Homo sapiens: one gene and its partners. The protein of the gene in region 1 interacts with the protein of each later gene in a pairwise test. Each region holds a gene or a part of one and is shown in the gene's direction. Other genes may lie near its edges.

The links.
Region 2: the proteins of DLST (region 1) and ISY1-RAB43 interact in binary tests that used the Homo sapiens proteins (3 or more experiments, as listed by UniProt).
Region 3: the proteins of DLST (region 1) and PPEF1 interact in binary tests that used the Homo sapiens proteins (3 or more experiments, as listed by UniProt).
Region 4: the proteins of DLST (region 1) and MMAB interact in binary tests that used the Homo sapiens proteins (3 or more experiments, as listed by UniProt).
Region 5: the proteins of DLST (region 1) and MYNN interact in binary tests that used the Homo sapiens proteins (3 or more experiments, as listed by UniProt).
Region 6: the proteins of DLST (region 1) and RAB31 interact in binary tests that used the Homo sapiens proteins (3 or more experiments, as listed by UniProt).
Region 7: the proteins of DLST (region 1) and CRELD2 interact in binary tests that used the Homo sapiens proteins (3 or more experiments, as listed by UniProt).

What each region holds. Positions count from the first base shown.
Region 1 is NC_000014.9:74,901,580-74,904,243, forward strand, and holds the end of DLST (dihydrolipoyllysine-residue succinyltransferase component of 2-oxoglutarate dehydrogenase complex, mitochondrial isoform 1 precursor), read left to right. Parts: intron 1-616; coding exon 617-751; 3' UTR 752-2,164; downstream 2,165-2,664. UniProt on the Homo sapiens protein: Dihydrolipoamide succinyltransferase (E2) component of the 2-oxoglutarate dehydrogenase complex. The 2-oxoglutarate dehydrogenase complex catalyzes the overall conversion of 2-oxoglutarate to succinyl-CoA and CO(2).
Region 2 is NC_000003.12:129,140,564-129,144,063, reverse strand, and holds part of ISY1-RAB43 (ISY1-RAB43 protein), read left to right. Parts: intron 1-3,500. UniProt on the Homo sapiens protein: Component of the spliceosome C complex required for the selective processing of microRNAs during embryonic stem cell differentiation. Required for the biogenesis of all miRNAs from the pri-miR-17-92 primary transcript except miR-92a.
Region 3 is NC_000023.11:18,706,381-18,710,444, forward strand, and holds the start of PPEF1 (serine/threonine-protein phosphatase with EF-hands 1), read left to right. Parts: upstream 1-1,264; 5' UTR 1,265-1,400; coding exon 1,401-1,446; intron 1,447-4,064. UniProt on the Homo sapiens protein: May have a role in the recovery or adaptation response of photoreceptors. May have a role in development.
Region 4 is NC_000012.12:109,553,215-109,556,504, reverse strand, and holds the end of MMAB (corrinoid adenosyltransferase MMAB precursor), read left to right. Parts: 3' UTR 1-2,790; downstream 2,791-3,290. UniProt on the Homo sapiens protein: Converts cob(I)alamin to adenosylcobalamin (adenosylcob(III)alamin), a coenzyme for methylmalonyl-CoA mutase, therefore participates in the final step of the vitamin B12 conversion.
Region 5 is NC_000003.12:169,776,396-169,779,895, forward strand, and holds part of MYNN (myoneurin), read left to right. Parts: intron 1-2,372; coding exon 2,373-3,166; intron 3,167-3,500.
Region 6 is NC_000018.10:9,844,301-9,847,800, forward strand, and holds part of RAB31 (ras-related protein Rab-31), read left to right. Parts: intron 1-1,281; coding exon 1,282-1,391; intron 1,392-3,500. UniProt on the Homo sapiens protein: The small GTPases Rab are key regulators of intracellular membrane trafficking, from the formation of transport vesicles to their fusion with membranes.
Region 7 is NC_000022.11:49,921,634-49,924,835, forward strand, and holds part of CRELD2 (protein disulfide isomerase CRELD2 isoform b precursor), read left to right. Parts: coding exon 1-128; intron 129-237; coding exon of another isoform or gene 238-272; exon of another isoform or gene 273-361; intron 362-660; coding exon of another isoform or gene 661-810; intron 811-978; coding exon 979-1,074; intron 1,075-1,600; coding exon 1,601-1,684; exon of another isoform or gene 1,685-1,827; intron 1,828-2,726; coding exon 2,727-2,822; intron 2,823-3,202. UniProt on the Homo sapiens protein: Protein disulfide isomerase. Might play a role in the unfolded protein response. May regulate transport of alpha4-beta2 neuronal acetylcholine receptor.

The sequences.
Region 1 (2,664 bases):
ATTATGCATGTCAGTCTGTGAGCTGCCAAGTTGTATGATAAAGCTTGTAAATTTCCCGGGAGTTCAGAGAATTAAGTATTAAAAGGGGCTTGAGCTGGCCCTTAGAAGATACGTTGGTATCAAAAAAGCTTTCTGGGAACTCCTGTGTTTAGAATCCTTTTGGGTTACTGACTCCTGTGTGAAACCACAGTCTGTAGATCTTCCTGGAAAATGCCCATACACCCAGCTACACATACAATTCCAGAATTTGTAGACCCTGGCTTAATTTTTTTTTTTTTTTTTAAATTCTAACCCCAGAGAGAAGCAAGTACAGGCAGCCAGAACTGAAGGGAAAACTTTCCTTGTAGGCAGCAGATGCGTTAGAGGGCAGAGTATGTTTTTAAAAAATAAAAGGCAGTTGTGAGAAGACAGTTTTCTTGGCAAACTTTGTTTCTGAGTGGGGAAGCTTTGCACTGAGGGTAAGTCCTGGTCTTTGAAATACTGTAAATATGCAGAGGCAACATCAATAGGAAAGGCTCTGGAATTAGGAACTTTCTTATGGGCTGTGCTAAATCTCCTTCAGCGAGGCTGGCTGTGGCTTGCTGGAGACAAACCTATTTACCTTTCCTCTCTGTAGGTAGAGGTGCGGCCCATGATGTACGTGGCACTGACCTATGATCACCGGCTGATTGATGGCAGAGAGGCTGTGACTTTCCTCCGCAAAATCAAGGCAGCGGTAGAGGATCCCAGAGTCCTCCTCCTGGATCTTTAGGAGGAACCCACACACCCTACAAGTTGATCATGCAGGAACTGAAAACCAGTCTTCTCCCTGTCCCCTCATGGGTCCCGGGTTAGCCTGGTGACAGGCAGACACATGCTGTTGGCCTCAAGCAAGGAAGCAGAGCACTGTGTAACCAGCAGTCACAGGTCTTTTCTTGGCGTTCCTGCCAGGCTCTCCCTCTCTGCACCTGTCTCATAGCCTCGAATATCTTAATTCCTTAGGCTTAAGAGAGAGAGCCTTAATGGATGCTCATTCATATTCCTGCCTTTCTTCCATCAGCTCTCTGCAAAGATGATTTTGCTTTTCCCTAGTGCTGGTATACTATAGAGAAACCCCTGGGGACCATGTGATTAAGTTCCTATCTTTTGAAAGTTTGTTCTGCAGAGACTTCTAGGAGGATGCTGTGCCTCCCAAGCTCAGAGCAGCCTCTGTCCTGGCTGTGCACATTCTCCCTTGATTCCACTTGTGTGGAGGGATTGAACACAGGCAAAGAGGTGCTGCTTTGCTTCTTCAATGGCACCTTCATTCTCCGTTGTCATTGACTTCAAGATGCCTCTTCTACCTCTTCCAGGAAGCACAGGCCAGGGGATCTGGGTGTGTGAGTGGGAGGAGAGGGCAGAGGTCCCCTGAGGTCATGCATTGTAATCATCATAGAAGGAGAGCCCAGGCCTGCCCTCACGCTCTCCATCATAGGCTGACACCAAGAAGACTCGTCTTGGCACAATCTCACACAGCTGGGGCTGTAGCAACCCTTTCCAACCCCTTTGCTGGTTGCTGGGCCTCATTCTAGCACCTTGTTCTTAGAGCAGATTCTAGCACATCATGGCAGTGGGACCAAGCGTGGTCCCGAGGAAGGGCCAGAGCCTGGTAGAGACTAGGGAAGGGAGGTCTCCTCTAGACTGACTCACATTGCCTTGAGCTTTTCAGTTAAGTTGCTGTAAGCACCTGGGCTGAGGAGGCAGTTTTTGTTCCTTCCTGCGTTATAGCGGGGCCTTGTCTCTTCCTCTGCAGGACACAGATCTGGAGGACGTGGACTGGGGTAGGAAACCACCCTGAGGGTGTTAGTACCTAGTGGTGAAACGGATGAGGTCATTTCTAAGGTGTGTTGCCCGTGGATCTGGGCACAATCATTGGAATTCCTTGGAGCCACTGGGATTCATGGCTTTGTATCCAACTGCATCCAGGCCTGAGGCTGCTGACGTTTGACACCAGGGCCAGTAGAGAGTGCCCTTTTGTATCTTAAGCCAAGAAGTGAGGCCTGGGGGTGGGGGAGGGGGGAAGGGGTGGGAGCCAATACTGAGTGCCTGCAGCATCTACTACTCTGTCTTCACTATTCAGAACTTGTAACTAAAGTATTTAAAGAAACTGATTTTAAATGCAAATTAAAGGGCAGATATTCTCAAACAGGGTTCCTGTATCTGTTCCTTTTGGCTACTGAGGTGGTACAAGTCCCCAGCACTGTTGCACTGAAATTATTGAAAGCCACTCAAGGTCCTGTTGCTTATTTTGTGAAATCAGAAATCCCTTATGTGGAACTTAACACTCATAATTTGACAGAAGGTAGAACCCTGACTGCCAGCCGGGAAAGTGTTGCCAAAAAGAGTCAACCTCTGTAAAAATATTTGAAGAGATTTATTCTGAGCCAAGTGTGAGTGACTGATGGCCTGTGATACAACTCTTAGGAGATCCTGAGAACATGTGTCCAGGGTCGTCTGGCTACAACTTAGTTTTATACATTTAATACATTTTAGGGAGACATAAGATACCAGTCAGTACATGTAAGATGTACAGTGGTTTGGTCTGGAGAGGCAGGACAGCTCAAGACCTGGGGATGTTGTCATAGGCAGAATCAAAGATTTTCTGATTGGCAATTGGTTGAAAGAGTTATTATCTAAAGACCTGGA
Region 2 (3,500 bases), on another chromosome or scaffold:
GAAAAAATTCGTATGTGAAATGTTAAGTTCCACCACCCAAATTCAACACTATTAATATTTTTATATATTTTTTCCAGAGATTTTTAATGCTTAATAATTTTATTTTTATTTTCTACATATAAAAGTAATATATTACCACTAAGTTCAGAAAAGTACAAAGAAGCAGAACAACACTCAGTCACAATCCCATTACATAAGTGCAGCCACTTGAATATGCTCTTTATCTTTTTTCTCCTTCCGTTGTTTTTGTATGAATGTCATAATTGAAACCATACTCACTGTATGTACAATTTTGGTTCTGGATTTTGTTTTTCTTTTCAAAATGGTAGCTTTCATTATATAAACAGTACATATTTTTGTGCAGAGAAAAAATATAAATATAAAAATTATAAGATATAAAAAATACATATTAGTATATACATTATAGAAATTCATTAATATTCTATGTGCTTTATTCTCTAAACTGTACAAGGAATACAGTTTCGTGTCAATAAATAATCATATGATAGATATGTATATTGTTTTATTTTATTCTAGTTTAGTTTTTTTTTTTTTTTTGAGACAGAGTCTCGCTTCATCACCCAGGCTGGAGTGCAGTGGTGCGATCTTGGCTCACTGCAACCTCTGCCTCCTGGGTTCAAGCAATTCTTGTGCCCCAGCCTCCAGAGCAGCTGAGATTATAGGTGTGCGCCACCACACCTGGCTAATTTTTATATTTTAGTAGAGTTGGGGTTTGACCATGTTGGCCAGGCTGGTCTCGAACTCCTGACCTCTGGTGATCTGTCCGCCTTGGTCTCCCAAACTGCTGGAATTACAGATGTGAGCCACTGCACCCAGCCTCTTAGTTTTTGTGACAAGATTTTACTCTGTCACCCCAGGCTGGAGTGCAGTGGCACGATCATGGCTCACTGCAGCCTTGACTCCAGGTGCAAGTAATCCTTTTACCTCAGCCTCCTGAGCAGCTGAGATGACAGGTGTGTGCCACCATGCTCAGCTAATTTTTGTTTTTGCGACGGAGTCTCGCTCTGTCACCCAGGCTGGAGTGCAGGAGTGTGATTTCGACTCACTGCAACCTCCCCCTCCTGGGTTCAAGCGATTCTCATGCCTCAGCCTCCAGAGTAGCTGGGATTACAGGTGCCCACCACCACGCCCAGCTAATTTTTGTATTTTTAGTAGAGACAGGGTTTCACCATGTTGGCCAGGCTGGTCTCGAACTCCCTACCTCAGGTGATCCACCTGCCTTGGCTCCCCAAAGTGCTGGGATTATAGGTGTGAGCTACCGTGCCTGGCCATGCCCAGCTAATTTTTAAATTTTTTGTAGAAATGGTGTCCCATTATGTTGCCCAGGCTGGTCTTGAGCTCCTGGAGTCAATCAGTCATCCTGCCTCAGCCTCCCAAAGTACTGGGATTACAGGCATGAGCCGCTGTGCTCAGCCAAATTGTATGATTTAAAAAAATGTTTTTTAACTCAAAGAGCATTGCAAAAATATACAGAGAACTTTTATATACCCTTTATACAGATTTACCAGTATTTAACATTTTGCTTGTATTTGCTTTATTTTCTTTGTGTACCTTGAGATTTATTTTTTGTGAACCACTTGAAAGGTAGGTTACAATACATCATGCTTCTTTACCCTTTAATATATGTGTATTTCCTAAGAAGAATATTCTCTTATGTAACCATGGTAGAGCTATCAAGTTTAAGAAATTTAACTTGGCTACAATAATTGAATCCATGTGGCATTTCATCAGTTTTCCCAATAATGTCCTTGGTAGCATTTCCCCTGCAGTACAGGACCTGATCTGGGGTCACATACTACATGTAGTTGTCAAATCGTCTTTTTTTTTTTTTTTTTCGAGACAGAGTCTCGCTCTGTCGTCCAGGCTGGAGTGCAGTGGCGTGCGATCTCAGCTCACCCTAACCTCCGCCTCCCAGGTTCAAGTGATTCTTGTGCTCCAGCCTCCCAAGTAGCTGGAATTACAGATGTGCACCACCGTACCCTGCTAATTTTTGTATTTTTAGTAGAGATGGGATTTTACCATGTTGGCCAGGCTGGTCTTGAACTCCTGACCTCAGGTGATCTTCCCGCCTTGGTCTCACAAAGTGCTGGGATTACAGATGTGAGCCACCGCACCCAGCAAATCATCAGTTTTAATAGATATAGTTGTATCTTCTGGATATATTTCATTTGTTTTCCACTAATTGTCATATAGGTTGTTTGTAATCTTTTTAAAGGTTTTGTCACTTAGCATCGTGTTTTTTATCTTTATTTATTTATTTATTTTTTAATTATTTTATTTTATTTTTTTGAGACGGAGTCTTGCTCTGTCACCCAGGCTGGAGTGCAGTGGTGTGATATCAGCTCACTGCAAGCTCCGCCTCCCAGGTTCATGCCGTTCTCCTGCCTTAGCCTCCTGAGTAGCTGGGACTACAGGCGCCCACCACCATGCCTAGCTAATTTTTTGTATTTATAGTAGAGACGGGGTTTCACCATGTTAGCCAGGATGGTCTCGGTCTCCTGACCTCGTGATCCGCCCACCTCGGCCTCCCAAAGTGCTGAGATTACAGGCGTGAGCCACTGCGCCCGGCCTAGTTTTATTTATTTTTTTTGAGACAGGGTCTTGCTCTGTCACCCAGGCTGGAATGCAGTGGCACGATAGGTGTGTGTCACCATGCCTGGCTGATTTTTGCATTTTTTTGTAGAGACAGGGTTTTGCCATGTTGCCCATGCTGGTCGTGAACTCCTGGCCTCAAGTGATCTTCCCACCTTGGTGTCCCAGAGTGCTGGGATTACAGGTGTGAGCCACCGTGCCCAGCCCATAAGTGTTTTTTATTTATTTATTTATTTATTTATTTATTTATTTATTTAATTTACTCCAGCCCTGGCTGGAGTACAGTGGCACGATCTTGGCTCGCTGCAATCTCCACCTCCCAGGTTCAAGCAATTCTTCCTGCCCCAGTCTCCTGAGTAGCTGGGATTACAGGCATGTCTCACCACACCCAGCTAATTTTTGTATATTTAGTAGAGACAGGGTTTTGCCATGTTGCCCAGGCTGGTCTTGAACTCCTAAGCTGAAGTGATCGCCTACCTTGGCCTCCCAAAGTGCTAGGATTACAGGTGTGAGCCACTGCATCCAGCTATTATCTTAAAATATATTTGCAAACATGGAAATAGTGGGTTTAAAGATCAGATCTGCCAGGCGCAGTGGCTCACGCCTGTAATCCCAGCACTTTGGGAGGCCGAGGTGGGTGGATCATGAGGTCAGGAGTTCAAGACCATCCTGACCAACATGGTGAAACCCCGTCTCTACTAAAAATACAAAAATTAGCCAGGCGTGGTGGCACGCACCTGTAATCCCAGCTACTCAGGAGGCTGAGGCAGGAGAATCACTTGAACCCAGGAGGTGGAGGTTGCAGTGAGATTGTGCTACTGCACTCCAGCCTGGGCAACAGAGCGAGACTCCACCTCAAATAAATAAATGGGCAACAGAGCGAGACT
Region 3 (4,064 bases), on another chromosome or scaffold:
ATGAGAAGGACTATAGAACACAAAGTTAGACTCCAGAGGGGCCTCAGCAGTGCCCAGAGAGCTTGTTTAAAAGGGCACTCTTGGCCAGGCACGGTGGCTCACGCCTGTCATCCCAGCACTTTGGGAGGCCGAGGCAGGTGGATCACCTGAGGTCAGGAGTTCGAGACCATCCTGGCCAACACAGCAAAACCCCGTCTCTACTAAAAATACAAAAAATTAGCCAGGTGTGGTGGCGCATGCCTGTAGTCCCAGCTACTAGGGAGGCTGAGGCGGGAGGATCACCTGAGCCTGGGAGGTTGAGGCTGCAGTGAGCTGTGATCACACCACTGCACTCCAGCCTGGGTAATAGAGCGAGACTCCGTCTCAAAAAATAAAATAAATAAAAGGACACTCTCACAGATTACAATTCCTAAATTTGGGGGGAGGTTTCAAACCTCCTTTTTTTTTTTTTTTTTTTTTTTTTTTTGAGATGGAGTCTCGCTTTGTCGCCCAGGCTAGAGTACAGTGGTGCGATCTCAGCTCACTGCAACCTCCGCCTCCTGGGTTCAAGCGATTCTGCTGCCTCAGCCTCCTGAGTAGCTGGGATTACAGACATGTGCCACCATGCTTGGCTAATTTTTGTACTTTTAGTAGAGACGGGGTTTCACCATGTTGGCCAGGCTGGTCTCGAACTCCTGACCTCGTAATCCGCCCGCCTCGGCCTCCCAAAGTGCTGGGATTGCAGGCGTGAGCCACTGCGACCGGCTGCCTCCTTTTTTTTAAAACAAATGTTCCCAACTTATTCCGCGAAATACTGTCAAAGAACTCACTTTGAATTTCAGCATAGCTGTTAAATATGTTGTTTTTGTCTCATAGTCAACTTCCAATTTGTGTTTTTAAAAGCCTAGATAGGTTGAATTACTTTGAGCTGAAAACCAAAACAGTTAATTATGTCAGCTCCTCCACATCCCATTCCCCATATTTAAATTAGAAAATCGTACACTCTCATATTTCGATTTTTCTTTTCATTTTGAATGCTCTATTTTATACAGAGCTGGATGTGACCTAGACATGGAGAAACTCATTTATGTCTAGCAGAGAAGCAGCCTATAGCTGCTCTGTAGCTGCTGCTGTGTTTTGGAAAATAAGCCAGGATTAGATTATGTCTGATCACTTTCCACATCACATGATGAACAGCGATTCAGAAGAAGCGTAAAATGAATCCTGCTGAGCAGCCCCTCAGCTACCATGTGGTTAACTGGCGGTTTCCTTCCCTCCCTCCTGTGTATTCCTCATTAGAATCTATGACTGAAGAGGATCGGCTAAGAGTGGTTCCTCGCAGCTTAAAGGGAGGCACTTTTCACACTCTGTCTTAAAATCAGAAGTTGAATTCATGAACACATATGATTTAGATAGAAGTCATGGGATGCAGCAGTTCTTCAACGAAAACCAGGAGATCTGACACATGTGAGTACTGGGAATGTGCCTGTGGTTATGAATGAAAAGGGGAAAATGAGCTGCCCTCACCCTCTTCTCCTTTCTCATTTACTCCCACGATGCTCAAGCTGCCCTGTGTGATTTGCACAAGGCATCGTTAGAGTAGCATAGGAAACTACATTTAGGAAGATGTAGCTTTGAATTTATGAAGTACCATAAAGTATTGTCTTAGAGATATTTTGTGTTTGATTTAATTTCATTCGATAATGTACCAATATAAAATCTCAATTTAAAACTCAGTGGCAGGGAACAAGAAAGGCAGTGTAATTTATATGTGTTTCTTCAATACTTTTATAAATAGCTATATCCCTACTTTTGTGACATTTAGTAGCATCATTGAATTTTTATTGGATTTTATAACTCAATGATCACATTATTTCTATATCTATTCAACACAGAACTTCATGAGATTTGCATCACGTTTTAAAAATAATCTAGGAGAATTGGGAGAATGCTAGATCATCTGTTTCCAAAAAAAAGGTGTATTGTTTCTAAATAGATGGCATGCCTTTCTGTACCCCCATATAATTAGAAGCTTAAATATTCACTTTGTTTATTTTGTACTGAGGTTCTTTCTCATGGCTATTGGCATCTAGTTGAAACAAACTTGAGCATTTAAGGGATAGAGTTTCCAACAAGCAAATTAAAATAAAAACAAGTAAATAAGCTGGGACAATTAATATGAGTAATTTGCTCTTAAACTCCACTTCTTTGATGTCTAGGTTATAGGTAATTCCCCCAACTTCTATTCCACGTCTTGCCTTTGGAAGTTTATTCAGGCTTAAGGTGGAGGGTTTAGGATGCAGAGTGTGCTATACTAATTAGCGTGGGATGTTTTACTTTGGGAATCAAATGTTATTCTCCTACCCAGCTGACTTGTGCTGATGATGTAGGAAACTCATCTCTGAAAGTAGGAAGGGACATAGGAGGTGTACTGACTCTTTCAAATCTTTAAGCATGTCATGAAATAAATCTTTCAAAAGCTCCATCTGAACTCTACTGCTGTAGTAGACGTTTATTAGCAGAGAGTAAAGAGAAATTATCTTTTTATATCTAGGATTACTCACAGTTCTTTAAATTTAGCCAAATTTCCTAGGTTAAAAAAAAAAAAGCCAAGTCCAACTTGTAAAAACAAATCCTCTCTCTTTTTGAAATACTTTTCAACTTTTAAAACATTGCATGTAAGTGGAAATATTAGCTTAGATTTTTGGATTGCTTTTTCTTTCAAATACCTGTGATTTATTGAGGTGAAATTCACGTAACATAAAATTAGCCATTGTCAAGTGAACAACTCAGCAGCAGTTGGTATGTTCACAGTGTCGTGCAACCACAACCCCTATGTACTTCTGAGACATTTCCAACACTCCAAAGTAAAACCCCTTATCCATTAAGCACTTTCTCCTCTCAGCCCCTGGCAACCACAAATCTATATTCAGTCTCTATGGATTTATCTATTCTGGACATTTCATGTAAATGGAGTCATATATTATGTGACCTTTTGTGTCTGGCTTTGTCCATGTTGTAGCATGTATCAGTACTATATTCCTTTTTATTGTGGAATAATATTTCATTGTATGAATATGCCACATTGTATTTATCCATTCATCAATTGATAGACATTTGGATTGTTTCAGCTTTGTTTTTTGTTTTTTGTTTTTTTTGAGACAGTCTTGCTCTGTCACCCAGGCTGGAGTGCAGTGGGGCGATCTCGGCTCGCTGCAACCTCCGCCTCCCAGGTTCAAGCGATTCTCCTGCCTCAGCCTCTGGAGTAGCTGGGATTACAGGCACACACCACCACACCTAGCTAATTTTTGTATTTTTGGTAGAGACAGGGTTTCACCATGTTGGCCAGGCTGGTCTCGAACTCCTGACCTCAGGTGATCTGCCCGCCTCGGCCTCCCAAAGCGCTAGGATTACAGGCGTGAGCCACTGTGCCCGACCTGTTTCAGCTTTTTGACTGTTATGAACAATGCTGCTGTGAACATATGTTTTCCGTTCTCTTGGGTATATACCTAGAAGTGGAATTGCTGGGTCATACGGTAGCTTTATGTTTAACATTTTGAGAAATTTCCAAGCTGTTTTCCCAAGTGACTGCACCATTCTACATTCCTACCAGCAGTGTATAAAGGTTTCAATTTCTCCACATTTTCAGCGATAGTTGTTATTGTCTGTCCTTTTGATTTTAGTCATCCTAGTGGGTATGAAGTGGTATCACACCATGGTTTTCATTTGTATTTCAGTAGTGACTAATGACATTGAGCATCTTTTCATGTGTTTATTGGCTATTTGTATATCTGCTTTGGAGAAATGTCTATTCAGATCATTTACCCATTTTTAATTGAATTATTTATTTTTATATTGTTGTAAGATAAATTTATATATTCTAGATACAAGTTTCCTATCAAATATGTGACTTGCAAATATTTTCTCTCATTTGTTGAATTCTCTTCATCCTTTCTTAATGGTGTTCTTTGAAGCACAAAAGTTTTTACTTTTGATGAAGTTCACTTTATTTTTTCTTTGGTTGCTTGTGATTTTGGTGTCATATCTAAGAATCCATTCCCGAGTCCAAAAAGATTTTTGCTCAC
Region 4 (3,290 bases), on another chromosome or scaffold:
AGTTTAGTCACCTCTGAGCCACCCATCACCGCCAAAGTGTGGGGGAAGGATAGCTGCAGATTGACAGGCGAGGCTCAGAAACTCCTGGCTTAGATTGAAGTGTGTGTGATGGGGGTGCAGCTTAGAGGACCCCCTCTGAAAGGGATGGAGATGCTGATGAGAACAACACTACCACTTGAAGGTGAACATTCCCTGTCTGGTTGGACTGAGTCAAGGGTCTGCGGTGCAGCATCTTCAGCTTGAGAAAATGAGGTTGTCAGTTTCCAGCAAGGCTGACATCCACCAGACTGATTTCTCCGATGTTGCACTTGGCTGGCTTATGCCTCTGAGATCGGTGCCACGGCTGTATTTATTTCAGTTGTCACTGCTGCTCCCTCCTGCTATGAAACGACACTGCCAGTGCCAGCAGTGTCCTTGGGAAAGGCAATATTTATGAAGGGCAGAAGAGGCAGCCCCAAGAACCTAAAGACTGCAGGCTGCTAATTGCAGGAAATGACTTTGGAAGGGCAGGCTCTTGTCCAGTTTCAGGGCTGAAATGCCTGGCGAACTCCATTCAGCCATCACATATTGACTGAGTGGCTGCTTAGCATGGGCCACCGCGCTAGGCTCGGGACAGCTGGTCTTTCCGGCCATCTTTCTTGCTGGCAAGTCAGCAAACATTACCTTCTTAGTCACGTGCATATTTTTGCCTTCATTCTTACCACCTGGCCTGCAAAGTTTGCAGGAGGGCCAGGTATATTCACTTGTGTCTTCTGGGTCCTTTCATTGCTGACAGGCTGTGATGGCCCTCTTGAGCCTTGGGCAGGGTGGGTGAGGTGCAGATGACCAGGAGTGTGTGAATGCCTTCCAGGAGGTGGCTTTGTTCCGTGCCTCCCTGCCCCCATCGTCACTACCAGGTCTGGTACGGAGTCGGTGCTCAGTGTTTGCAAAACAGAGCTGAAAACGGACTTTGGGAGGCCGAGGCAGGCAGATCACCTGAGGTCAGGAGTTTGAGACCAGCCTGGTCAACATGGTAAAACCCCATTTCTGCTAAAAAAAAAAAAAAAAAAAAAAAATTAGCTGGGCATGGTGGCGGGTGCCTGTAATCCCAGCTATTCAGGAGGCTGAGGCAGGAGAATCACTTGAACCTACGAGGCAGAGGCTGCAGTGAGCCAAGATCGTGACACGACACTCCAGCCTGGCTGATAGAGTGAGACTCCGTCACAAAAAAAAAAAAAAAAAAAAAAAAACCCTGAAAACGCAATCACTAAGGCTCGGTCAGGGAGTATGTTCAAAGAGCTTGCAGCGAATCACTCAATTCTGTCTACACCTCAAAATCTCAAAATCTTCCTGGAATATATATATATATATAAAATAACACAGCAGCCCTGCATGCCTAGCCATGGGAAAGCACAGCCTCCAAAGGATAAGGAAAGCTTTTTGAGTAAATACAACATCCTAAAGTGACAATCTTTGAAACAAGGCCGTTCACCTGTTGCCAAGTCCTGTCCTTCCAGGACCGGGTGTCACAGCCTGGATGTTAACAGTCGCGTTCTCAGACCCCCGCCTCTGTATCTGTCTCCCGGTTCACCAGCAAACACTTCTCTGAGAAACCACCTGGGTGCAGGGCAGATGCCACCACTCAGCAGGTGTTTCTCTCCTGTGCTACCAACCTGGGAAAAATGGAGAAAGCTTGCTTTGGGGGCTGGAAGGATGGGGTGTTTAAAACATTTGCTCTTCTGCAGTGCCTTTCAAAAGCTCTATCAAGAGCCCGAGGCAAAAGAAAAGATGTGTACCCCTCTGTACACTGAGCAAATGTCCTCCCATATTTTGAACCAGGTGGGAAAAGTTAATGAAAGCCCTACAGTCAGGAAATGTGACTGCGAAGCCCCCGCTGCCCCAGTGTTTGCACACCACTGGCAACTCTCAGAAACAATCAGTCCCATTGCACGGGAACACGGGGTTTTGAAACAAACAGCAGCCTGTTTTTATTTAAAGTCGTGATCCCTTGCTTATCGTAGATTTTTTTCATAATTTGATTTTGGAAAATATTGCACACAAATACTACTCGATCCCTGAGTTTGTGGGCACTTCCTTACATTTTGCACCCATGAAAATGCCTCCTCCGCCTCCAGGTCAGGCTCCCTGGAATGGGGTGTTTAGTGTCATTTCCAGAGACAAGCTGGCAGTTGGCTCTTGTGTCAGAGAGAAGCCCACAGTCACAGTGACACCAGCCCGCACTGTGGAAGGGCTTGCTATGTGCAGTGCCCTGAGCCAAGTGTTCCACAGACATTATCTCATTTGAACCCCATAGCAGCCCTGGAAGGAGGCATTGGGTGGGGAACCAAGTTGTCCTGGGGAGTCAGTGCCAAGATGTGAGCCCCGGACGCGGCCTCGTCACTCACAGCCCCGTGCTCCTCAGCTCCCACCCACTGCCGCTTGACAGTCGTTTTAATCACTACCTGGGCTGTGGCGAACAATGCCAGGCTCTGATAGATCCTGCTGTCTCATTTCTCAACCTAGTTTCCCTTAACTAATATTTCATGGCTATCGTTAATGTGCGTTTTTCATCGAGTAATTTCCACAGCCCGAACTTGTAACACATCCCAATGACAAACGTCCCCAGTTCGGAAGCCCCCGTCAGTGGCAATGTCACCCTTGCTGCTGCCTCGACACCTTCCGACAGCCCATTCAGTTTTATGATCGCCCTGTCCCAGTGATCACTACTGAACCTTTAAGAATCCAGATGCATTTCAAGTTTAATTGAATAAAATTCTTTGTATAATAAATTCCGCATGAATGCTACATAAATCAGTGCCTGGAAGGATTTGTGGCTCATCCCTCCCCTCTGGCGGGGCCTGAGAATCTTCTGGCAATACTGACACAAGCTGGAATAAATGCATCTTTGCAGTCAGTCCAGCTAGAGGCAGGCGGCACAGTTTTAACTTGCCTTGGCCTATTGCTTTTCTTCTCTCAGAGTCCTCCTGGAAGATAGTGCTAAAGTCCAACAGAGGCAGGGACAGGCAGATTGCGGAGACCTAGAAACTTTGGGGACATCCCTCGTGTTCTCCCATTCCACAGAATCAGAAACTTCTCAAGCTGTGGTTTGTCACCTTTGGAATGCACACACACATATTCACAAGTTTGCATCCAGTCATAGGAAGTCCATGGAACCTCCCGGTAAGAATCCCTTTTCTAAGAGAACCCATGCGACCCTCTTCGGGAGCTAAGTCAGGATTCCCAAGGCTGCCTTCAGCAGCCTGTTTCAGGGTCAGATAGCTCCAGCCTGGAAGGGTGAGAAGATGCACTTG
Region 5 (3,500 bases), on another chromosome or scaffold:
TGTGCTCTTGGACAGGTTACTTTATTTCTTTGGACTTCTGATTTTTCACTTGTGTGTAAAATGAGGATTATAATAGATTTCATAGGCATGTCCTGAGGATAATCTTATAAAGCATTTAGGCATGTACCTGGCAATATGTAATTAAATGACCTTCAGTGACTGTTCAGAGGATGTTATCTAATACTTGTAAACAAAAGCAAATCTGTTATTGAAGTATTGATTGGTGCTCTTAACTGTGACTGAGATTATAGCCATCTATGAAATAGTTTGTATGAATTACCATTTCAATGTTGAACAAATTTTTTTTTTTTTTTTTTTTTTTTTTTGAGATGGAGTCTCACTCTGTCACCCAGGCTGGAGTGCAATGGCGTGATCTCGGCTCACTGCAACCTCCACCTCCCAGGTTCAAGGGATTCTCCTGCCTCAGCCTCCCGAGTAGCTGGAATTACAGGCACCCGCCATCATGCCCAGCTAATTTTTGTATTTTGTAGATACGGGGTTTTACCATGTTGGCCAGGCTGGTCTTGAACTCCTGACCTCAGGTGATGCGCCCACCTTGGCCTTACAGGCATAAGCAACTGCACCCGGCCTTGAACAATTAATGTATGACTTCCTGCTAACTTATATTGGTCTTAAAGGCTACCTGACCTTGTTATCTGTTTGGCGGTTTATTTTATGGAGCACTAAACACAATTAGAGACCAAAAGATCTTTTTTAGTGGCCCAGCCCAAAAGACAATTTTTAGAAAGCTGTTGTGATGCTAAATTAAATAAGGGGAAACATACAGGTGGCACTTGAGGCAAAGCAAGTTTAATTAGAAGATGATGAGAACATGGGTAGAGATTTGTAGATACTGTAGCATACTTTTAGAGATCTTAGAGGTTCATGACACTAGTTATTTTTTATTTTATTTCAAATTTTAGTCCTTTAAAATAGTATCACCAGCACTATATTTACATTGTCAGCTATGATTAAAACCCTTTTCTGGCTTATACTTACAACAGAGAGGGAAAGAGATCATCTTCCCAAAGATAAACCATATTTAGGGAAAAAAATCAAGTAGGAAGATTATTTGAGGGTAAGGGGTGTGTGTGTGTGTGTGTGTGTTTCCATCCTCAAATACTTATAACAGTCATGTTTTTAGTGTTAACACCAACTCAACTCTAATTTTACAGCTAAGAAAGTTGAACCCCCCAAAGATGCTGACTTACCCTAATTAAGTCAGCCAGTAATGCCAGAGCCAGTGCTAGATTAATCAAACAACCTTTCACCACATTGTGAACTTCTGAAGGGCAGAGACTATTTACTTATTAATATCTTAGTACCACACATGGTAGATGCTTAGTAAACATTTGACTAGAATATTGAACAAGGTGGCTTAAGTCTTTCTTTGTAACTCTCACATCACGAACACTCCAGCTAATTTGGGTTGAGTATCACCAAAAAAGGTGGGAGGGTTGCTAGAGAGAGTTTAACATTCTAAAACCTTGTTCCTCTAAGTGGATTCCTCTAAGCAACATTGGCATCACCAGGAAGTGTATTAAGAAATGCAGGCTGTGCTGGTGGCTCACGCTTGTAATCCTAGCACTTTGGGAGCCCAAGGTGGGAGGATCACTTGAGGCCAGGAGTTCGAGACCAGCCTGGGCAGCATAGCAAGACCCTGCCTCTACAAAAAAAATAGCCAGGCATGGTAGCACATGCTTGTAGTCCCACTTACTTGGGAAGCTGACGCAGGAGCCCAGGAGTTGAAGGCTGCGGTGAGTTATCATTATACCAGTGCACTCCTGCTTGGGCAACAGAAGAATACCCCATCTCAAAACAGAAAAAAAATGCAGAATCTCAGGCCCCATCACAGACCTACTGAATTTGAATCTACATTTAACAAGATTCCCGGGTGATTCACATGCACAGCAAAGTTTGGGAAACATAATTAAAGTCCCTCACAGGGGAGCAGGAGAAAATAGTAGGAAACAAGTGTCATTAGACTTTCCCTCTTGCCAATCCAGAAAAGTTGGTTGCTATCTGAAGAAGCCTCAGGATGAATGGAGGAGGTAGTGAGTTACCATCAGCTATTTTTGTGTTCTAGGGTTTTAAAAAAAAAGCCAGAAAATTTAACATTTAATTTTTCTGCAGTGGTTCACTGTCAGCTGTGAATAGCCATTATCTTTCATCTCTTGAAGTTCTGTAAAATTGGAGATTTTTTACCTAAACATTATTCTGAATGAATTTATAAATCTATTTTTCTCTTAGTTATGTCTTTTTCAGCATTCTGCTTCATTAGGTCTTTAAAATACATTGAAGTATATATGCAGCTCTGTTTCGAAAGTTTTTCTTTGATCAGAATATTGTCATGTAGCCTTGTTTCCTTGCAGTTGGAATGTTAAAGAAATTCATCAGGCTGCTGACTATCTCAAAGTGGAAGAGGTGGTCACTAAATGCAAAATAAAGATGGAAGATTTTGCTTTTATTGCTAATCCTTCTTCTACAGAGATATCTAGTATTACTGGAAACATTGAATTGAATCAACAGACTTGTCTTCTTACTCTGCGAGATTATAATAATCGAGAGAAATCAGAAGTATCTACAGATTTGATTCAGGCAAATCCTAAACAAGGCGCGTTAGCGAAAAAGTCATCTCAAACGAAAAAGAAGAAGAAGGCTTTCAACTCCCCGAAAACAGGGCAGAATAAAACAGTGCAATATCCCAGTGACATCTTAGAGAATGCATCTGTTGAATTATTCCTAGATGCAAATAAACTGCCCACACCTGTAGTAGAACAAGTTGCACAAATAAATGATAATTCAGAACTCGAGTTGACATCAGTTGTGGAAAATACTTTTCCAGCACAAGATATTGTGCACACTGTTACAGTGAAACGGAAACGTGGAAAATCACAGCCAAACTGTGCTCTGAAAGAACACTCTATGTCTAATATAGCCAGCGTCAAGAGTCCTTATGAGGCGGAGAACTCCGGGGAAGAGCTGGATCAGAGGTATTCCAAGGCCAAGCCAATGTGTAACACATGTGGGAAAGTGTTTTCAGAAGCCAGCAGTTTGAGAAGGCACATGAGAATACATAAAGGAGTCAAACCTTACGTCTGCCACTTATGTGGAAAGGCATTTACCCAATGTAACCAGCTGAAAACGCATGTAAGAACTCATACAGGTGAGACGGGTGTGTGGGGAGATATTATTTTTATACTGTGACTAATATAGTGTATTTTTATAGAGAGTACTTAGCACACACTACTTGTGACCAGAATTTGGTATATTTTTCTATTCATCAAAGTATTTAACAGTGTTAAACTGTTGAAAATTTATTTGTAATTGTAACCAAGTATTTAATGGCTGTTTAAGCCCTAATGCATCAACTCCTTATACCATTTTCCCTCCAAATAAGTATGTTGATTCTAGCTTACCAAGTATTTAACAGAGACAAAGACATTAAAACTGATAAAGAGAAAATGTAATTACAATTCAGGCCAATTTTCAGATATTGC
Region 6 (3,500 bases), on another chromosome or scaffold:
CCATAACATCCCCAGCAGTGCTGGGTGCAGAATCAACTTTTAATAATCTCCGGGAATGTGTGCACTCTCCTGTCTCTGGGCCTCTGCTCAGGCTGTCCCATCCCAGAGTCTGACCTGCATTTGCCTAGCCTTCATGGCCACACTTAAGGTGACCACCTCTGGGCATCTTCCTGGGGTCTATTGAACAGAACACATCACTTCCTGCCCCTCTGCTCCTGAAGCACTTTATGTCGCAGTGTTGTGGATTAGAGTGCCCCTGGATGAGCCCTGTTTGTCTGTGTTCTAAAGCACAGGTGCCAGAAGGCAGAACCTGTGTTTTCTCTGGCCCCTGGGAGAGGGACTGGCATGCAGCAGCTGCTGGAGAATAGGAACTGCATCTTTTTTATCTTTGGATCCACCACAGCATTTTCACATTGAAAAGAGGTCAGTAGGTTTTTTTAGGGTGGTATGGCCGTAGACCCCATCCAAGTACTAGCCAGGCCTGACCCTGCCTAGCTTCCAAGATCAGATGAAATCAGGTGCGTTCAGGTGAGTTTTGTTTTGTTTTGTTTTGTTTTGTTTTGTTTTGTTTTGTTTTGTTTGAGACGGAGTCTTGCTCTGTCACCCAGGCTGGAGTGCAGTGGTGTAATCTCGGCTCACTGCAAGCTCTGCTTCCTGGGTTCACGCCATTCTCCTGCCTCAGCCTCCCGAGGAGATTTTTTTAATTGTTCATTTAAATAGAGTTCATGCCCTAAAACCTTTGCGAGAACATCCTTTTACAGATGAAAGTCCAGATATGCCATCCTGTATTGTAGCCATGGTCGGTATAACCATGCTCGTTTCCAAACTGTCACAGCACATTGCATATTTTCTCTGATTTGTGAAAGATAATATGTAAAAAGTTTCACAAAAGCATGTGTGCACAAACATACTAACAGAGGTTTGGTGTTTTTTAATATTGAGTCATGTAATGGGGAAAAAAGTTGAAATCAGCTGTAGCTCTGAAAGCTGAAATGTGTACTGCCATATTTGTCATGGTTTTCCCTGCTGTTCTGGAATTCTTCTGTGGGAGCAGGAACACTATTTTATATATGCATATCTTCTCTTCATGAATGCCAGAGACTGGGTTTTAAACTTTAAAAAGTCTCACTCATACTAGGTGTCCATTCTTGCTGAGTGATTGAATTATTATTCTACAAGAAGATAAAGGAGCTGTTGCCGCACAAGCTGTCTGGTCTTTTGGGTGATTTGTATTTTACAAACAAACATTCATTTCCTGTCTACATTTGACCTCTTTTCCAGGGAGGTTCCCCTGAAGGATGCTAAGGAATACGCTGAATCCATAGGTGCCATCGTGGTTGAGACAAGTGCAAAAAATGCTATTAATATCGAAGAGCTCTTTCAAGGAATCAGTAAGTACCTGAAATTGGGTTTTCAGCCCAACTTGCATTTTTATGCTTCTGGGAGTCAAAGGATAACATTTTAGAACTCTGAAGTGAACTTTTCCTCTGTGTGAATTTATCGGATGCCATGGATACAAAATCTACAGCTATGCAGTTGTTAATACCCACTTCTATTATCCTCTCGATTCTAGATTTCCATGATTCTGTACTGGAACCTGTTCACTCTGAGTTCTGTAAATTAAAATGAAGTAATCCTGTTGCAAAAATAAAATTTATTTTAATTGAAAATTATGCATTCTGTAGCATTTTATGTTAGGAGGAGAGAGAAAATAGACAAGGTATAGAACTCAAGGTCACCCATTAGATGGGATGACTCTAGGTAAACTGAGGGAACCTTCCAGTAACTTTTTTTGCCTGATCATCTCCTACAAAAAGTAATGTCTCCATCCTGTTTGACCTGAAATTGGGAATTGGATACAGGGTTGGCGTGTACAGGTACCCCATGTGTCTGGTGAGCTAATTAGGGAGGGTGACAGCCTCCTTCCTGGTCCCAGTGCTGGGTCCCGTTATGCTCACTGTATGCCGGCTCCCCGGGAATAACCTTATCAACCAGAGCTGGTTCCCAGCTAATGGCTCTGCCAACACATCTATCTGCAGCTGTGAGGCTTCCAGCTCAACAGATTTAACCTTCATAAGTTCTCTGGTTGTGTCATTCTGTTCCGGATTCTGCCAGAGAAGTCCCTGCTGACAGCCATCTGGGAAAACTGCTCTGAGACACCCTCAGGAAAGTTCGACCGGAGCATTATCAGGGACGTTGGGAGAAGTACAGGTGTTTGATGAAATACTGGCCCTGAAGTTCCTGGAATAGCCACCTTAGGAGGAGTTGAACCCCAAAACAGTAATTGTCCTCAAATATCTTAGCTCCAGACAACTCCAGAAGGGAAACTGATGGTTTGATCTCTTTCCTGCCTGAGATCGTTTTTGGCAGAGCTCTCAAAGTCAGAGAAGCCGTGGCTTCCCAGAACAGTTTTGATTTCTGTTTAACTGGTTTGAGTGCATTACTTTAGACTCCAAGAACCCACAGGAGGGAATCTTTTGTTTATGTTGGCTTGATGGAGAATTCATTGGAGATGGGGAATTCTGACCTGTCTTACCTACACTATGCAGAGATATGCAAAAGAAATGTGCAAAAGAATGGCTTGGAGCCTCCCCTCCCCAGCTGCTGGCCCTTTCCTTCACTGGGGTCTTCACTCTCTTCCCTTCTTTCCACCTTCCCTTTCTTTCCTCCTTTGATTTCTTACTCTCAACAGAATGGTTTCAGGCTCCTTGCCCTGAATGGCTGAACTCTAGCAGGCTGGGGCTGGAATTTCATGTGGGAAACCCCATGTCCCCACATTCCTCTCCCTTCTCCATCATGGTCAGTGGGTGCAGATGCTCTCTGGTGTTGTGTCACTCTGGGTGACATCTAAGTTTGGGCTCGAACTCATTACATTAGCCTCACATTTCCTCAGATTAAACTCATTCTCTTCTGGTGGCGTTAGGCTCTTCTGCTATGCTCAGCTATGAAACATTTTGTTTTTACAGGTGGTTTTAATGAATGAAGCTAGATAGCTCCTGAGGACGATTGCCTTAGCACCTTCCATCCTTACAGCCCCGCGTCTTCCGCAGAGCCCCCTCCTCCTCCTTAGCTCCCTGGCCTTGGAAGACCCCCAGCACAGATATCAGTGGTCAGCCAGGGGAGCCTGGTGCCTTGTATGACCTGAACTTGAGCTTGAGATCTCTGCACCAGCTGGGAAGCTTTCTGAAGTTTATGAAAGTCATTGTTAAAATTTAAAAATATCAAATAAGGACCTGAAAGAGAAGAAGCCTGAGTAGGAAGTACTGTACTAATATCTTTTTTCTTTTTTTTTCTGAGACAGAGTCTTTGTTGCTCAGGCTGGAGTGCAGTAGTGCAATCATAGCTCGCTGCAGCCTCCACCTCCTGGGCTCAAGCAATCCTCCGACCTCAGCCACCTGGGTAGCTGGGACTATAGGTGTGCACCACCACACTCAGCTAAATTTTTGGATTTTTAGTAGAATCAAGGTCTCGCCATGTTGCCTAGGCTGGTCTCAATCTCC
Region 7 (3,202 bases), on another chromosome or scaffold:
CGGAGATGGGAGCAGACAGGGCGACGGGTCCTGCCGGTGCCACATGGGGTACCAGGGCCCGCTGTGCACTGACTGCATGGACGGCTACTTCAGCTCGCTCCGGAACGAGACCCACAGCATCTGCACAGGTACGGGCTACGCCTGGGCTGGCCCCGGGGTTGAGGCGGGATGACAAGAGCCCCTTGCTGGAGCTGCCTGCCTAGATGGGAACAGGGGCCTGTTGATCTTTAACCCCAGATGTCCAAGGAAGCTTCGAGGGCCCAGAAGGATGAATGAAAACATCAGAGGATAGAGGCAGAGGTTGTCGGGCACTTCCTGTCCCGTAACAGCCCTCAGAAGGGAGAAGCTACTCACCTTTCTCTCTAGTTCAAGGTCCACCCCGACCTTGAGTTGTGATGGGCCATGCAGTGCACAGGTCCTGGAGGTGCCGTGTGGGCCCCGCACCGGCCCAGAGAGCAGCATCTGTCAAATCCCTGCAGGCCGTTATGAGTGGCATCTTTCCAAAGGACGTTTTCTCCCTGGTTGTCACTGATATGTAGGAAAACTCTGAGTGTCTCGGACGTGAGTGTGTGGTTGGCCGGCAGCCCCTAGGCTATTCTGGGCAGACAGACCCGTGGATCGATAGTCAGGACCGGCCTCTCCGATTCTTACGCCCCTCAGCAGTCAGGACCGGCCTCTCCGATTCTTACCCGCCTTGCTGTCTGTCTCTTGGATGTTGGCGTGGCGTGGGCCACGCATGGATCCGTGGCCGGAACACGCACACCCAGCCAGGCTACAGCTCCAGAGTATGGATAGCTGCCTTCTCTCCAGGTTATTAAAAATTCCTTGGAGTCCTGGTTTGCTGAGAATTTTAAATTCATGGGCACTGAAAATCCCGTGTTGCTTTTCCCTCTTAAATTCCTCACTTTTAAACGAGCCTTGTCCCCAAGCTGGTACCTGAGAGTGGGGTTTGTACCCAGGCCCGCCTTTGCCTTCCAGCCTGTGACGAGTCCTGCAAGACGTGCTCGGGCCTGACCAACAGAGACTGCGGCGAGTGTGAAGTGGGCTGGGTGCTGGACGAGGGCGCCTGTGTGGGTGAGGAGCGGCCCGGGGGTGGAGGAGGGCGCCTGCGTGAGGCGTGGGGGGTGTGAGATGGGGGCGTAAGGCGTGGGGGGTGTGAGGCATGGGGGCGGGAGGCAGGGGGGCGTGAAGTGTGGGGGCGTGAGGTGGGGGCGTGAGGTGTGGGGCTTGGGGTGTGGGGGGCGTGAGGTGTGGGGGAGCATGAGGTGGGGCGTGAGGTGTGGGGGCGTGAGGTGGGGGCGTGAGGTGTGGGGGCACTCACTGTCTCACTCTCACACAATGTGTCGCCATCCTCATGGGGCGCCTGCCCCGGTTGGCACTGAGTGTCTAAGGACAGGGCCTGGCCATCGCCTCATCCCCTCCCCTGCCGCGTGGGGCCTCCGAGGATGGCATTTGAGATGATTCCTCCTCAGGGGCTGCCCTCCTCCCTGCCCTTCCCCAGCCGGCCCTGGCCACGGGCTGTGTCAGGCCATGATCGGTCCTTCCCCGCTCCCTGGCCGGGCTGTCCTGGGCCGCTCACAGCTGTGCCGCTCTGTTCCAGATGTGGACGAGTGTGCGGCCGAGCCGCCTCCCTGCAGCGCTGCGCAGTTCTGTAAGAACGCCAACGGCTCCTACACGTGCGAAGGTGGGCCAGGCGGGCGGGTCTGCACTCCGGGGCCTGCCGGGTTTCGTTGCTGCCTTTGTCAACATTCATTTATGGCTTCTTAGTGTCACTTCCATACATCCTGCCTGCCCTGAGAACACTTAGTGTGGCAAAGTAAGTCATAGGTATTTGCTGCAGGAAAATCAGAAAATTCAAGTCAGATGAAAAGAAAACAGTTAAAAACCCAGGAACTCCCTGGAGAGCGCACCCTGCTGGTGCCTCCACTGCTCGTGCCCCCCCAGCGCCCCCGCAACGTGCCCTGCGTGACTTTCCGCAGCGCCTGTCGGGTGTTTTCCACTCAGCAGCTTGTTGCGAACGTCTCTGCGTCCTGTGGTTTCTCTGTCACGCTAATGATTTTGGAGCCATTATTTCATACTTTTACAACAATGTCTGTTGCTGGACGTTTACGTCATAACAGTTTTTCAACTTATAAACTGTGAACACTTGAAGGTAAACTTTTCACATTCCTTATGATTTTCTGTGGATTAATTTCCAAATCGCTCAGTCAAGGGAATGTGTCTTTTAGAGCCATAGTGCCCCAGAAAAGTTGTGCTGATCCCCAGTCCCAGCAGCAGGGAGGAGGCCGCCTCTGCCCCGTGTGTGTGACAGCCCCAGGCAGTTTTCACTGTTGGGAGTGCAGACAGTGGGTCCCTCAGTGAGCCACTAATACTGGAAGCCATGCGAGAGGCTCTGGTTATTCTTAGGAAGCTCCTGGCAGGCTGGCAAACCAATGGTCACCGAGCTGGAGGTGGGTTTGTTTCTAGAATCTCTGTAGCACCCAGTTTCTCCCAAAGAGTTCCAAGCCAGGTGGTCTGCACCATGGCTCTCCGGGAGCACCTGCTGCACAGCAGGACGCGAGTCTGTGCTTTTGCCGGGAGACAGAGACAGATCGTTATAAAGTCACTTGGTGATGAATGAGGAGAAAACCCAAATCCTGGCGGCACCGGTGCCTTGTGCATGTCGGGGTCTGACGGGCACTGGTGCCTTGTGCATGTCGGGGTCTGACGCTGGCTCCCTGTTGCAGAGTGTGACTCCAGCTGTGTGGGCTGCACAGGGGAAGGCCCAGGAAACTGTAAAGAGTGTATCTCTGGCTACGCGAGGGAGCACGGACAGTGTGCAGGTCAGTGACGGGGTCTGTGCTGGACGCTGGTGGACCCTTCCCAAGTGACCATGATGTGAATGGCCCCAGCAGGTACTGCCAGGGATGGGAAGCAGTTGAGACCCGTCCTGCAGACGTGGCTCCCCCAGGGTCACTGTGCACTCGCCCTGAGGTCCACGTGAGACACAGAAGCAGTGGGGGTGGGGGACGGGCTCTGCATGGCCGACCCTGGTGTGGATGGCGCTGCTGCACCAGCCTCTCGCCGGTGGCCTCGTTCCCCAGGTCCACCGCCTCTGCTCTCCCTCCAGCTCCTGGGTGGCGATTGCCCCGAGGCTTAAGTCCAGGCCTGCCATGGTTGTGGGCTGCCTGGGTGAGCCTGGGCGTGGATGGAACCCGGTGGA